Linked DNA regions of Homo sapiens. The protein of the gene in region 2 purifies or fractionates together with the protein of the main gene of each other region. This does not show direct contact. Each region holds a gene or a part of one and is shown on either strand. Other genes may lie near its edges.

Region 1 (8,125 bases), on a different chromosome or scaffold from region 2:
CATTCCGTAAATCCTGGGACAACTACAAGAATAATAAAAGCTGAAAACCTTTCCAGATACTTATTTAAAATGATTCATCAGTTTTTAGACATAGTTATTCCCATTTTAACATCTCGAGGCATCTTAAAATTAATGGTGTCTGACAGGTGGCACTTGAGACTTACTTGTCTTTGCCTTAAATAATTTATTTTCTTATGCTTTCCTTTTCATATATGCCCAAGAGGGAATGTGATATAATTTATATCCAGCTAAGATTAAAAGATATTTCAGTAAGTGTAAAATTTTAATCCTCTGATAAAAAAAGTATTGTCATAGTTTAACTGGCAGCAGTTTTTCTCTCCAGTGGCATCTTGGTGTCTCAGATTCAAAGAAACTTTTCTGTAGCAATTAAGCCTATTTAGCATTATGATGCAGTGATATATTTTTACAGAGAATTCCCATTAACCAAATTCAGGAATATGTCTTTCTACCTTCAAAGAACACCTACTGTGCTCCTTAATGTGGGTTTAATGTAGATGAATCGTGATCTCTTTTGCACATGCGTGATTTCTTTCAGTACAGTCTTAACACAGCCCAACTACTTCTAATGGGTAAGAGTTCTCCCTGCTTATAATCAATGAAATGAAAACAGCTACAGTTCCCATAAACGTGTAAATGTTTGCTCTTCACCACAGAACTATGGGAATGTTTTCTTGAGATTGTTAAATATATGAAATATTTTATTTAGAGAGAAAACTTTTACCTTAGAGCAAAGAGTTCACCGATTTTCTGCATAACTTCTTCATGAGATAGTTTCACTTTCTTCCCAGCTTTTAAAGCCTAGTTGAGAGGGAATCGGAAAAACCAAAAAACCATGTATCTCTCTTTCTAATAAGCATTAGGTCAACAGGGCAAAATCTGAAGTGGCATAATTTGGATCCTATGTAAATATTTTTTAGGATGGCTGTCTCCCAGATTAATGTCTTAACTCACCTTGAAATTTCATAATTTTATTAGGTAGAAATTGTATATTCTCTTTTTTCATTTCCCTTCTCATCAGCATTTTCAATGATATATACATTCCTAATCTCTTAGTAGAAAAGCAGGGCCTCCTTTCCGAAGTATAATTAGATTACTCTTTCACAATAAAGACACAGTTAATTACAATATGATGATTTTTAATGTATACTGAAATTTCAATATAACTTTATATGTATTTTTCATACCACTATTTTTCTCATAATTTAGCAAAACACTTTCTTAAATCAGGAAAAGTGGTCATAATTTCCATTCTCAGAGAGAAACATTTCACTTTTTTCTTTAATTCAGTTACATTAAAAATACTGCAACTGACGGGCATGGTGGCTCGTGGCCTGTAATGCTAGAACTTTGGGAGGCCGAGGCAGGAGGATCGCTTGAGCCCAGGAGTTCAAGACCAGCCTGGGCAACATGGCCAGACCCCATTTCAATTATATTAATATTAAAAAAAAAATACTGCACCAACAGAGGAAACAATTTGAAGTTTTAAAAAGTAAAAAGTAATCAATATGAAGTTTCTTAATTTGTCATTTTATATGTAACTGGGAGTTCTTAAGTTTACTGTAGTTTTCTTATTGTTTGTAATAATGTTGTTGTACTCCTAAACAATCGGCCCTCTATAAGTTCTGCAACTGCAGATTCAACCAACTGCAAATTGACAGTATTTTGAGAAAAAAGAATGGTTGCATCTGTACCGAACATGTACAAACTGTTTTTTCTTGTTATTATTTCCTAAATAATACAGTATAACAACTATTTACATAGTATTTACATTATATTAGGTATTTTAGGTAATCTAGAGATGGTTGAAAGTATACATGAGGATATGCATAGGTTATATGCAAATATATACCATTTTATATCAGGGATTTGGACACTGGTAGATTCTGGTATCCAGTGGGGTCTTGGAACAAATCTCCCATGGATACTGATGGATAGCTATATATTGTTATATTGGGAAATTCATATTTTTTACATATAAAAATCAATCCTTGAATAAGCATAAAATTGATATAATTACCTCAGGAATTGACTGAATAGATTCAATAAATTTATCCAGTGATGCTTCCCAAATTGCCAGTTTTACTGGGAAAAAAATTAATAATGGAACATTTCTTTATCATCATATTCACATGTATATAAAATACATAATTGCACAGCATCTTCACTACTATTTCAGTAATAGTTTAAGAAAAAGTACTAAAACCTTGAAAATATAATTTAAGAATAGTTAATTATCATAAAGGACAGAATTAAAGTGGATAGAGGAAACTGAATCGCTTTCCATGCCCTATTGGAAGACCAAAGCTACATTTAGTAGAACTCTTGATTTTCTAGTATTACATCTTGGAAACTGAGGAGGGTAGGGTACACCTTGATACCATGGGTAGCTCTGCAGATAGGGCGCGACTAAGACTTTCCTGGCCTCCCCTTCACTCCTCAGGACTAAGAGTAAACCTCAGAAATCTCCGAAGCCCCTCAGAGTGGGATGGACAGGACGCTGCAGCAGCCACCTAAGGTAGACTGCTGGCAAAAGAAATTCTTAAAGAACTTGTATAGTTTTATTCGGGATGTGGATCTTTCAGAACAAACTTATAGCCACTGTGACTCTGGGTCCCATTCCTATGGAACACTAGAGTATGTTTTTCTACACTGGGACCTGTGCCCAGTCACACAAGGCTGGGCTTCTCTGTCTGGATTAGAGACTATCTAAGAATAACAATCGCATAGAGAGAAGAGAAAAAAACAAAGGCTAATATAATCATCATCTAAAAAATACTTTTGGAGAGGTTAAGCTTTATTAATACAATTAATAAGGAATGAGTAACTTCAGCACAGTACTATCTTTTATACTAGATATTTTTTCTGATGGAGGGAAAAAAAGGAAAAGGAATGCTAAGGCTTTGTTGAGTATTCTGAAAATATACCAAAATCGTGACTATTTAAACTTCCCTCAGTGAAATGACAACTGTAGTACCCTATCCCATAAGCAGTAGTAACTTACCAGAAAGGCATAGAGCATTGGAGAAAGCAAACTTCTCTAGAATGGCATCATCTAAATCCAGCTCTGAATTTAACTTGATTTCCCCCCTGTGAAGTTTTGACTGTCCCCTGTGAAAAGCAAAAAGATAATACCTTCTAAATCTTAAAAAGCACTTTAACTTTTCCTTTGAAAAAGACACCATATCATCTTTCTGGAGGTCATTTTGACAATTTGTATCAAGAGTGTTACAAATGTTCTCATATCCTTTGGTCCAGGTAATTCCCTTTCTAGGAGTTTATCCTAAGGAAATAATCTAAGATGCAAAGAAAAATTTGTATACAAGAAAACTTTTTTTTTTTTTTTTGAGACAGTCTCACTCTGCCGCCCAGGCTAGAGTGCAGTGGTGCGATCTCAGCTCACTGCAACCTCAGTCTCCTAGGTTCAAGCGATTCTCCTGCCTCAGCCTCCCTAGTAGCTGGGATTACAGGCATGCGTAACCACACCCAGCTAATTTTTTTTGTATTTTTAATAGAGATAGAGTTTCACCATGTTGGCCAGGCTGGTCTTGAATTCCTGACCTCAAATGATCCACCCACCTCGGCCTCCCAAAGTGGTGCGACTACAGGTGCGAGCCACCTTGCCCAGCTGAAAACTTTTAAAAAAATGGTCAGTGTTGGCTGGGCACGGTGGCTCACGCCTGTAACCCCAGCACTCCGGGAGGCCGAGGCAGGTGGATCACGAGGTCAGGAGATTGAGACCATCCTGGCTAACATGGTGAAACCCCGTCTCTACTCAAAACACAAAATAAAATTAGCCGGGTGTGGTGGCGGGCGCCTGTAGTCCCAGCTACTCGGGAGGCTGAGGCAGGAGAATGGAGTGAACCCGGGAGGCGGAGCTTGCAGTAAGCCGAAATCACGCCACTGCACTCCAGCCTGGGAGACTGAGCAAGACTCTGTCTCCAAAAAAAAAAAAAAGGTCAGTGTTTAAGAGTAAAAAATTAGGAAATAAACCAAATGTTCAGTAGGGGTTGGCTCAGTAATAGTCACTCCACACAAGAAAAACTTAAAAGTGTGTTTTGGAAGGATAGTTAATAAAAAGGAGAACGTTCACAGTAAATTTCTATGTGAAAAAATGCTGCATATAAAACTATATATGGAGTGTAATCTAAAATCACACTGACATGATGGGGTTGGGGAGGGAGGCAAGGAAGTTGTGAAAAATGAGTATGTGACTGTGGAGAATCCTAGACAGGGGACAGGGGAAGAGCGGAATGTGTGAATATAAACATCACAAGCAAATGGAAAAAAGACAGGGTAAACCTTCACAAAAGATGTCAGACAAGAAGTGACGGCCAAAGGGAGGGGGACAAGGGGCCTGATGGAGGGCGGCATCTGCTATGACAGCCTCAGATGGAGGAAGGAAAGCAAAGACAGCAGTCACAAGAGGTCTTTTTTTTTGAGACGGAGTCTTGCTCTGTCACCCAGACTGGAGTGTAGTGGCGTGATCTTCGCTCACTGCAACCTCCGCCTCCTGGGTTCCAGCGATTCTCCTGCCTCAGCCTCCTGAGTAGCTGGGATTACAGGAGTGCACCACCACATCCAGCTAATTTTTATATTTGTAGTACAGACAGGGCTTCACCATGTTGGCCAGGCTGGTCTTGAACTCCTGACCTCAAGTGATCTGCCCGCCTTGGCCTCTCAAAGTGTTGGGATTACAGGCATGAGCCACTGTGCTTGGTCACAAGATGCTTTATGAGTAAACTGGGCCCATGCCACAGAGCTGAGCAGATCCCTGGAATCATGGCAGAACTCACATAATAACCATGTAGGTGGCAGCCAGGACAGTCTTTCTGACGAAACAAAATAACTGACTCTGGGATCCTAAGCACTGAGGATTTTACTCCTCACAGACTGTACAGTAACGTGTGTGTGTGTGTGTGGATAAGCGTACACACACACACACACAAGGGTCTAGCAGTAGTTGGATATGGAAGTATTTGGTTGGTGCAAAAGTAATCGCGGTTTTTGCCATTTTAATGTAAACCTAATAGAACACAGAAAGGGGATTCACAGGAGCTGTATCTGCAGGCCAAGGGCTGAGTAACTACTAAAGATAATAAAACTACAGGCTGCTCATTTGCTGTCTCTCTCAGGTTTATATCCTTACCTCTGACTGCAGCCACCACTGGGCTCAGGCTGACTCACAGTCAGGTGCCCTTTGGCAAGACAGGATTCAATAAATCTCATCGGAAAGCCAGTTAGCTGCAATTATAGGGTTTTCCCCAGGATTAAATGAAATAATACATGGAAGGCACTTACTTAGAAAACCGTGACTGGCCCTATTGGTGGTGAGCGCTGATTACTCAGCTCTTATCCCCATCTGGTCTTTCTATAGCTAGTCTCTGTCTCTCTTCCAAGTCTTCCCAAAGCTCTGCTTTTAACGCTTTTTTTTTTTTTTTGAGACAGAGTCTCACTCTGTTGCACAGGCTGGAGTGCAGTGGTGCGATCTCAGGTCATGGCAACCTCTGCCTCCCAGGTTCAAGCAATTCTCTGCCTCCGCCTCCGCCTCCCAAGTAGCTGGGATCACAGACACTCGCCACTATGCCCGGGTAATTTTTGTATTTTTAGTAGAGATGGGGTTTCGCCATGTTGGCCAAGCTGTCTTGAACTCCTGACTCAGTTGATCCTCCCACCCTGGCCTCCCAAAGTGCTGAGATTACAGGTGTGAGCCACCAAATCTGGCTAACACTACCTTTCTTAAGAACCTGCAAAGACTCATATTTCACTAGACAGGTAACTCCATGAGGAAAAAGACACTACCATCTTGTTCATACTGCCTCTGTCTCGGCCCTAACATCTCTTCATTTTTTCCCTCTGGCTGAGTCAGGAAAATCAGCTAGTCTGTTGCCTACCCATTTATCTTAGTGAAACTGGTACACCAGGTCCCACTTCTTCCAGCACCCACACTTCTACAAGTGGGTCTCTTAGATTGACCCCTCACTATACTTCCTTTTCATACCCCCACCCCCCAAAATCAATAGGAAAAAACTGGATTAAGAGAAAAATTTACTGGAATAATTTGATAGGTTCATTTGATAAATGCATACTATTTTATTGGATTAGGCTGATTAGAAACTTAACATTTCCATTTTGGGGCTATACTACTGACTTGTTTTAACTTGTGGATAGCCTGAGAAGTTCAAAAAATTATGTTTATCTTCTAATATTTATTATATGGTTTAGACTTTGTATTTGTACCAGTAATCTTTTTCCTCTTTTTTTTTGAGACGGAGTTTCACTCTTGTCACCCTGGCTGGAGTGCAATGGCGTGATCTCGGCTCACTGCAACCTCCGCCTCCCAGGTTCAAGCAATTCTCCTGTCTCAGCCTCCCGAGTAGCTGGGATTACAAGCACCCGCCACCATAACCAGCTAATTTTTGTATTTTTTAGTAGAGATGGGGTTTCACCATGTTGGCCAGGCTGGTCCTGAACTCCTGACCTCAGGTAATCCACCTGCCTCAGCCTCCCAAAGTGCTGGGATTACAGGTGTGAGCTACCACGCCTGGCCACTTTTTTCTTAAAAGTAAGTTTCCAGGCCAGGTCCAGTGGCTCACGCCTGTAATCCCAGCACTTTGAGAGGCTGAGGTGGGCGGATCACCAGGTCGAGATCCAGACCATCCTGGCCAACATGGTGAAACCCTGTCTCTACTAAAAATACAAAAAATTAGCTGGGCGTGGTGGTGCACACCTGTAGTCCCACTTACTCAGGAGGCTGAGGCAGGAGAATTGCTTGAACCCGGGAGGCAGAGGTTGCAGTGAGCCGAGATTGTGCCACTGCACTCCATCCTGGGCGACAGAGTGAGACTCCGTCTCAAAAAAAAAAAAAAAGTTTCCATATGCATAATAATTTGTCTCCTCTATTGCTTTACCTAATTTATTCCAAGTGCCCCTTTCATAAATTTGATGAAAAGTTGCTTACTCTATTTTTATGTAGTTAAGTTCTTCATTTTCCCAGTGTACCAGTGCGATTTCATAGGGCTGAATTTCATGTTTTTCTAGAACTTTCATCACATGCTTCATCTAGAAGAAAAGGAAGATTAATCTGAAATCATAACTGACTCCCTCAGTTCAAGTATGTTATGATTTTAATGCTTATAACAGTCTTCATTACACTTACAGGCATTATTTCTGTTGCATGTTTTTAAGGAAAAGGCAAATCAAATCCATTGTGATATTAAAGTAATCAGGATGACATGTTCATTTGTTTTTACATTTGGAAAACACAGATGAGAATGGAGAAGAAAATCAAGGTTATCATTATCCCACAACCCAAGGAAAATCACTAGTAATATTATAATTTGTATTCTTTAAATCTCTTTAATAATCCCAGCATTTTGGGAGGCAGAGGCGGGTGGATCCTTGAGCTCAAAAGTTCAAGACCAGCCTGGGCAACGTGGCAAAATCCTGTCTCTACAAAAAAATACAAAAATTATCTGGGTGTGGTGATGTACACCTGTAGTCCCAGCTACCTGAGAGGCTGGCTTGAGCCTGGGAGGTGGCGGTTGCAGTGAGCCAATGTCAGCCGGTGTGACAGAGCAAGACCCTATCTCAAAAAAATAAATAAATAAAAAATAAAAAGTAAAGCCCAACATACTAATAAAAAATTAAGCCACACAGGTGTGGGAGGTGATCATCTCTTTCTCTCTTCTGTACTGAAATCCTAATCCCCAGAGGCAACCATGATTAAACTTGGTGCATATCCTTCCAGACTTTTTATGTGTATATATGTACATATTTATGCTGCTTTTTATGTAAAATAGGATCATATTATGCACATGACATTTTCAACACTATTTTCCTTTACAGACGAACTGCAATTTATTTAACCAACCTAGGTGTGTCCTCCATGGGGAATTTTTTCTACTCTCCATTACAATGTTGCGATGTGCCACACTTGTGCAAAGGTCTTCATGGCTTTGTGGGAATACTTCTTTAGGAATTGCTAGATCAAAAGATATGTGGACTTACACAATATGTATATATGTAACAGACAGGGTCTCACCTTGTCACCCAGGCTGGAGTGCAGTGATGCAATCATAGCTCATTGCAGCCTCAAACTCCTGGG
Region 2 (8,125 bases):
ACCCTCTCGCTCATAAATTTTCCCCTGGAAGAAAAGCATCAGAACTGCATGCCTTAGCAGTGCTTTCCCAACCTCTTTCATACCATGGCACGTTACAGAAAATTGTATTTGTAAGACACACTGGAGGAAACTGTTAAGGCTGCTCAAGGCAGGGCATCACTATCTCAGCATGCTTGCAGCACACCAATTGGGAAGCTCGGTCTTAAAAGGCCCTGCAAAATACTGCAAGAACTCTCTGACTCGTATTTTGTTTTCGTCTGTCTCATATTTTATTCTTACTTATGCCTACAGTTGTGAAAATACAACCCCTCAACATTTTTAATAGCAATATCCAAAGAAGGCCACAAGATGGAGATATTACTCCATTTTCATTTATATTTGTATTTATGCATTTTTTCTGTATACGTTTCTATGTGTATCCTGCTTTCTTCCTCAGTGGTATTCTCAGCTACTACCTCTATCTCTAACATTATTCTAATTCCTCTGCCACTCGGTTTTAACTTGCTTTATTATAGAAATATATAATGAATACTATCATGATCTTTGTTTTTAATATTAAAAGCAGGCAGATAATTGAAATATTTTCTTCTAGCTCTATATTTTCCCACTTCTCTAAAATTAAGATCACTTTTTTTTTACCCATTTTTATCCTGCGGGCAAACTTTTTTTAAAAAAATTGCTACCCACGAAGTAATAAGTAGTCCAAGAGTCATTTGCTCTAATACTTTCTACTACCTTGTAAAGCTACAGATTTATTACTTTGTGTCAATATCACTCAAAACTTCTCTGGGACTTTTCTTTGAGAACAGTCCTCAAGGCAGTCTATCAGCATTACATGAAATGTATATTCAGATCTTTTTATCAATACAAAGTATTTATCCGAGCTTGCTAACCTAATTTAGTCACCAAATTTAGCTCCAAATGACTGTTAGCTATAGCCAAAAATCAAACCCAACTTTAAGATTTACTACTAATGAGGCTAATGTGAAGAATATGCAGCAAGCTTTGAAGGCAATTCAAAACAAGAAGCTTCAGTGATGTTTTAAGAGACAGCAGCATGTTGAAAAACTGTGAAGCTTTCCACAATAAACACTTGCAAAATCAATCTAATTTACTTTAAGTTAAATCTTATATACTTCCAAACGTGTGATATAAAAAGTCACTCATTGATTGTGTAAAACTACTATAGAACTGCACAACATGGCTGTCATTTGAACTTTATCAAATGTCTAAACTAAAATGCTTTAAACATAAGAAGTTGGCCAGGCGCGGTGGCTCACACCTGTAATCCCAGCACTTTGGGAGGCCGAGACAGGTGGATCACGAGGTCAGGAGATCAAGACCATTCTGGCTAACACGGTGAAACCCCGTCTCCACTAAAAATACAAAAAAAAATTAGACAGGCATGGTGGCGGGCGCCTGTAGTCCCAGCTACTGGGGAGGCTGAGGCAGGAGAATGGCATGAATCCGGGAGGCAGAGCTTGCAGTAAGCCGAGATCGCGCCACTGCACTCCAGCCTGGGTGACAAAGCGAGACTCTGTCTCAAAACAAACAAACAAAAAAACACACAAGAAGTCTATTTCCTACTACATATAAAAGATCCATAAAGAAATATTGTATGATATAATTAAAACACAATTTCCAGACTTCCTACTTTATATATATTTATATTATATATACTTATATATTAATATATTATATATATTTATACATGTTAACTTCCGCAAATCAAACTTAATCACCAACTATCAATACAAAGCACCACTTTAAGTCAGAAAAGAACCTAAATAGTAATCTTATCTGTTAACGAAAAGTGTGGTAATTGAAAATAACTGCCAATAAGATTTGCAATTAAAAAAAATTTTCTAAAAGTCAGAGGTTTCTTTTTAAAGTATAAATTCAGTTGGTCATGGAATAGATTCCTTAACCTGACCTGTTTTAATGGTATAAATAAAGTCCTTAAGTATTGACTAGAAATAAGAAGTTTCTACCTTCCTCATGTGTACGGACCCTAAGATTTCTTCATGGTCTATTCATACTTTCCCAGTAAATGGCAACAATGATCTTTTTCTTTCTGGTCATAACTCATTTTGACTACTGCTCACTATACAGGCCACAGTTGAGTTTCATGTAACAGTTTAAAATTCTATTTCCTTCTATAACCAGGAGTTGTATGTATTCCAGAATGTGTTTAACCAAGGAAATTACGTCATTTTAGAATTCTAGTATTTGCTCTTAGTGGCATCTTAACGTTGCTCTTCTCCATTTTAACACTGCTGCATATACTATGGCATGTCCTTTAATTCTTGATCTTAGATTATTAGCTTTAATATTAAGCAACTCAAATATATTAGTTAACTGTGTAGCTGCACAGAGCTTAATGCCTACTGCCTCAGTAGCAATAAAACAGGCATCCATCTGATAATGAAGTATACTGTTTTATACACATATTCTAACAAAAATGTAGAACGTGGCATGCCCTTGCTTTTGCAATATGCCTGGTTACATGTGAGATTTCAGTTGCTGGATGATGTAATCAGAAACACTTATCAAATATGGTGAATGAATCCTCACCTTGCTTAATTTAGTATTACATAAGATGGGAAATGAAACATAAATTCTAGATTAAATTTCTAATTAGGTCCTTATGACACGCTTAGACAAAAAATTTCAGTAAATATAAGTAATACTCAAATATCAACTATTCAGTTCTTAAAATGAAATACTATGCTGTTATTTAAAACATGTAATCATATTTTTACATTCATTAGTATAGGGCCCATCTTTTACAATTAAGTGTTTTGATGAAAATAAAGATTTTTGAAAATATGACTGTGACTTCATTATAAAATGATCTAGGGTCCTGCTTCATCCAATCAGAAATCTCTCTTTCCACTGCAATTCCTTTCCTTTATTTTTGTATAACTCTGTAAGAAAGGCTTTGGAATTGTTTTCAACTAGGTGGAATTAACTGGTATCATTACTGTCTAAACAGACCCAATAATGCCCACAGTGGAAAACAGTTCTGAAAGTCACATAGTACCATTTATGGAATAAGCAGTTCACTGAGAGAGAGCATAACAAAGCTGAGAAAAGGTTTATTACAGACACTAGGCATTTTATCAAACAACTTTTATTGGCATTACTTACAACTGCCATATAAATTCTCCTCTCAGCAATCAAGTCAAATAACCTCAACCTCTGTTTTATTCTCAACATTGAACAAAATATGATTGTGAAATTAACCACATTAAACCAATCACTAGGTAAACTGGTAACCCATATAACGTTTTAGAATATATTTCTAGGAATAATTGTAATAGCAGAAGCCATTCCACTTTCCCAGTTCAACTTAGGCTATTGTCTATGAATAACAAAAGATACAATATTCTAAGAGTGTTCTCATAATTAGTGTAAAGAAAAAACTGAGAATAGCATAAAAGGAAAAAGGAAACTTAAAACTAAAAGAAAGTCTCTGTTCCATCAGCTCTAGATTATATGTGGCAAAATTTTCACAATAGACTTGCTTTATCCCATAAAATTGGCTCAGGCATCTTCCACTAAACTATACATATCACAAAAAGAGTGTGTACATAAGAAAACTAATTTTATGATAATTCTATCTGATGCAAAGATGTATACAATTAAACAAGTACTTATTCAGCTCTAACGCTATGCATGCCTACATCAGAAATATAAATGACTGAAAGGTTATCTACCATTCTAGATTCTGTGTATCTCTTTCTCCAAATTAAAAAAAATTGGATTCTACAATAAAAATGGGGAAGCTATTATTACACAACACACATGTACAAAGGAATAGACTCCACAGAGAAAGACTGAACTACACTCAACACCACAAGCTCAGTGGATTCCACTGCAAGAATCACTGGACAAAATTGATAATCACAGTACAAATTCACCATCATTCATGAATGAAATCATCATCTTCATTTCTAAAAAGGACTGTGATGGGCTTTAGGGAGGCCCCATTAACTGGTTTTTCCCATCCAAAAAACTGAGTGGACACAGGAGTCGGGCAGACAAGAGATGAACCTTTATAACTGATACAGCTATTGAAGAATACAGGTTAAATGTGATGGCCAAATGGGCTTGCTAGCAATTTGTGCCCTCTCCTCTACATTCTAGACTTTGAGACAGTATGCTCAAGGGTAAGTCTGGTTAGGATAATTGCCTTACTGGTCTGGGCAGAGAGGTGCAAAGAGACTGATTCCCACTACTCATAGCTTTCTGACTGATCAGCTCTTCCTAATCAAGCAAAACAGAGCAAAGGCAATCACCCTCCAGTAAGGTAACTCACACCGCCATGGTAAGATGTTAGAGATGGGTCTAGTGATCAGTGGTGTTTTTTTAGGGAAGTTCCTCCCAACCATGGGGCACGGATGAATGGGCAATAATTGTCCCTCCTCTAAACAGGCTAGCTAATCTGTACATTTGAAAATACAGGCCGAATGAGCTTAAAAGGTTTATTAATTCCTATCTAAAAATTAAAATCCAAATATTTTATAAGCACATCCCTGTTCTTCTGCTTTTCTTCTGTTAACCAAGTTTCAGCATTCATTTGAATATAAGGATTTAGTTATAAAACACGAGAGAAAGAGAATGAAGCACATTTTCTAGCTACATAAATAGAAGTCTGTAATGACTGACTGGCACCATGAAGACAAATCTTGACTTCAGCATAAAGTAAATACTACAAAATTTAAGATAATTTAGCTTGTCATTATTTCAATTCACAGATTTTTTTAAATGAATATGAAGTGTTTACTGTTGGCTAGAATTACTGTATACAAAGGATAAGGAAAGTCATGGTCCCAAAAGACAATTAAAAGAAATATAGAGGCTGGGCGCAGTGGTTCACGCCTGTAATCCCAACACTTTGGGAGGCCGAGGTGGGTGGATCACCTGAGGTCAGGAGTGCAAGATCGGCCTGACCAACATGGCGAAACCCCATCTCTACTAAAAATACAAAATTAGCCAGGCATGGTGGCAGGTGCCTGTAATCCCAGCTACTCGGGAGGCTGAGGCAGGAGAATCGCGTGAACCCAGGAGGCAGAGGTTGCAATGAGCCAAGATCGCGCCACTGCACTCCAGCCTGGGCGACAGAGCAAGACTCCATCTCAAAAAAAAAAAAAAAAAAAAGAAATACAGAATTGCCACTGACCCCACAAGAAGTACAGGTGTCTGAGAAGCAGGTGCTGTTACACAAAATATAAATACTGTGCAGGAACCTATAATTTAAGATGGTAACGAAAGATCTTTCAATAGCACATCTTTTTTCCTACACTCCTCTCTCATCTTCCCCCCATCTCCTCTGAAAAGATGCAATATCCAAATTGGAGTGCCCTATTATTAAAGTCATTCTAAACATGGTATGAATGACTAATAAATCATCTGTATATACCCCCCAACAAAGACTTCTGCAACCCCTTTCTAGACTTCTAGAATGGACGTGAAATCTAAGGATACATGGAAGAAGATTCTTCTGCTGCCTGAAGGCTGTGAAAGATTACATAGAAGTAAAATCTGTTGAGTAAAAACTGTCAAGCAACTACTTGTTTGGGGAATTACAGTTTGCATTTAGTTACAATGTTTATAATGTTTGATTCAATAAATATTTAGGTGTTTACTATGTGCCTTACTATGAAGAAAATAAAAAGCTACCATCTGTCCTAAAAATGAGGCAACTAACTTGTCCAAGGTCATAAGGTGGTCTGGTCCAAGTTCTAAGTCATCTGTTATTCAGATTATAGAGCTTAGAGAGTAACTGAGTTATCTTATACCTGGTGGATAAGGGGATAAAGAAGATGCCACAGACAGTCACTACCATCTCTGCCTTCTAGTTTAGGATATGGATATCTCAAAAGAATGTTCTATATTAATTGTCTCCAATTCTTCCCTTTCATTCTCTCCTGAACCCAATCTACCCAGACTACTGAACTCACCACTTCACCAAAACAGTTCTTACTGAGGTAGCCTGTGACCGCCATACGGTTAATTCCAACGGTGAAGTCTCAAAGCTCATCTTATTTGAATCATCATCATCATTTAACCCAGCTGATCCCTTTGTCTTTGAAACACTTTTTTCACTTGACTGAAGAGAACCTTGTATTGGTTTGCCTCCTACCTTACTGGTCGTTCCTGCTCTATCTTCTTTGTTGATTCCCCTCCATCTTCTTGACTCTTTTTTTTTTTTTTTTTTTTTTGAGACGGAGTCTCGCTCTGTCGCCCAGGCTGGAGTGCAGTGGCACAATCTTGGCTCACTGCAACCTCCGCCTCCCGGGTTCAAGCAGTTCTCTACCTCAGCCTCCCGAGTAGCTGGGATTCCAGGCGCCTGCCACCACGCCTGGCTAATTTTTATCTTTTTAGTAGAAACGGGGTTTTACCATGTTGGCCAGGCTGGTCTTGAACTCCTGACCTCGTGATCCACCCGCCTCAGCCTCCCAAAGTGCTGGGATTACAGGCGTGAGCCACCACACCCGGCTCCTTGACTCTTAAAGTCTGGAATCCCCAAGGCTTATTAGCTCCCAGATCTCTTCTCTTCTCTTTTACGTTCACTCCCTTGGTGAACTCATCCAGTTTTGTGGCTTCAAGTTACTCTCTAAGTGCCTCGGACTCCCAAATTCCTATCTACAGCCCTAAACTTTCTTCTTGTAACTCTACACCTGAATAACCAATTGCCTACATACCAGCTCAACTTCAACGTTTAACAGACACCCCAAATTTAGCATGTCCGTAAACCAAATTCCTGATGTTCTCCAAACCAGGCTCCTAGTCCAGGTTTCTCCATCTCAACAAATGGCAATTGCATCCTTCCAGTTACTGAAGCCAAAAATCTTTAGAATTATCTTCAGTTTCTCTTTTTCTCTCGCATACCACATTCAAGCCATCAGTAAAATTCTGTTTGCTCCATGTTGAAATTCAATCCAGAATCTGACCATTTTGCACCACCTCCACTGCTACCACCCAGGTCCAATCTATACCACAATTATCCCTCTAAGTAACTAATGCCTCACAGACTATACTCAGTACACTAAAGAGATCATTTTGAAATTCAAGTCAAATCATGTATCTTTTCTGTTCAAACACCACCTCCCCCAACTTACTTATAAGTAAAAGCCGAAGTCCTTACAATGGCCTACAAAGCCCTACATGGTCTTCCCTTACCACCTATGACTCAGATCTTGTCTCCTATTGCTGTTCTCCCATTACTGTTTTCCTTGATCACTCTGCTCCAGCCACACTGCCTGCCTTGCTATTCCTCAAACGCTAAGCAAGCTCTTGCCTCCTGGCCTTTGTGCTTACTGTCTGCTCTTCCTTGAATGTCCTTCTACCATGCTATGGTCTGAATGTTTTTGTCCTTCGAAATTCTTATGTTGAAATCTAATCCCCATTGTGACAGTAATACAAGGTGGGGCCTCTGTGAGGTGATTATATCACGAAGGTGGAGTCCTAATGGATGAGATTAGTGTCCTTATAAAAGAAGCCCCAGAGAGCTGCCCTGCCCGTACCACCATGTGAGGACACAGCAAGAAGGTGCCATCTATGACCAGAAGGCCCTCACCAGACACAGAATCTGCCGGTGCCTTAATCTTGGATTTCCCAGCCTCCAGAATTGTGAGAAATCAAGTTCTCCTGTTGAAAAGCTGTCCAGTTCATGGCATTTTGCTATGGCAGCCCAAATGGCCTACAACACAACAATTACCCACATGGCTTACTCCCTAACTTCTCTCAGAGGCCTGCTCTGACCATATAACATTTATATTTACTTACTTGGCTGTTTACTGTCTGTTTCTCCCTACTGAATTATAAGCTTAGGGGTTTTGTTTTATATAAAGGTCAACTCCCAATGCTTAAAATCCAATAGGCACCAAACAAATCTCTGTTGCGTGAACAAGAAGAGATTAGTGCACAGAGCCAGGTCACCACTTTCAGCAGCCTACCTACTTTGTTCTGGTCCCTCATGTTTGGCTAGTCACCAAATGGCTCTGGCTTGAAAACTACACATGAAAGACCCTGGACAGGTTGCATTTGTCTCCACCAAATTTCTGGTCCCTGAAAGTCATCTAACAAAGTTAAGATTCAATGTAAAGAAAAAAACTTG

What was found.
Region 1: the proteins of DNAJC1 (region 2) and RMND1 purify together in Homo sapiens (affinity purification with mass spectrometry; 2 studies listed by BioGRID and IntAct, with this or other methods). This does not show direct contact.

What each region holds. Positions count from the first base shown.
Region 1 is NC_000006.12:151,420,503-151,428,627, forward strand, and holds part of RMND1 (required for meiotic nuclear division protein 1 homolog), read right to left. Parts: intron 7,081-8,125; coding exon 6,980-7,080; intron 3,130-6,979; coding exon 3,023-3,129; intron 2,104-3,022; coding exon 2,039-2,103; intron 820-2,038; coding exon 743-819; intron 1-742. UniProt on the Homo sapiens protein: Required for mitochondrial translation, possibly by coordinating the assembly or maintenance of the mitochondrial ribosome.
Region 2 is NC_000010.11:21,993,247-22,001,371, forward strand, and holds part of DNAJC1 (dnaJ homolog subfamily C member 1 precursor), read right to left. Parts: intron 1-8,125. UniProt on the Homo sapiens protein: May modulate protein synthesis.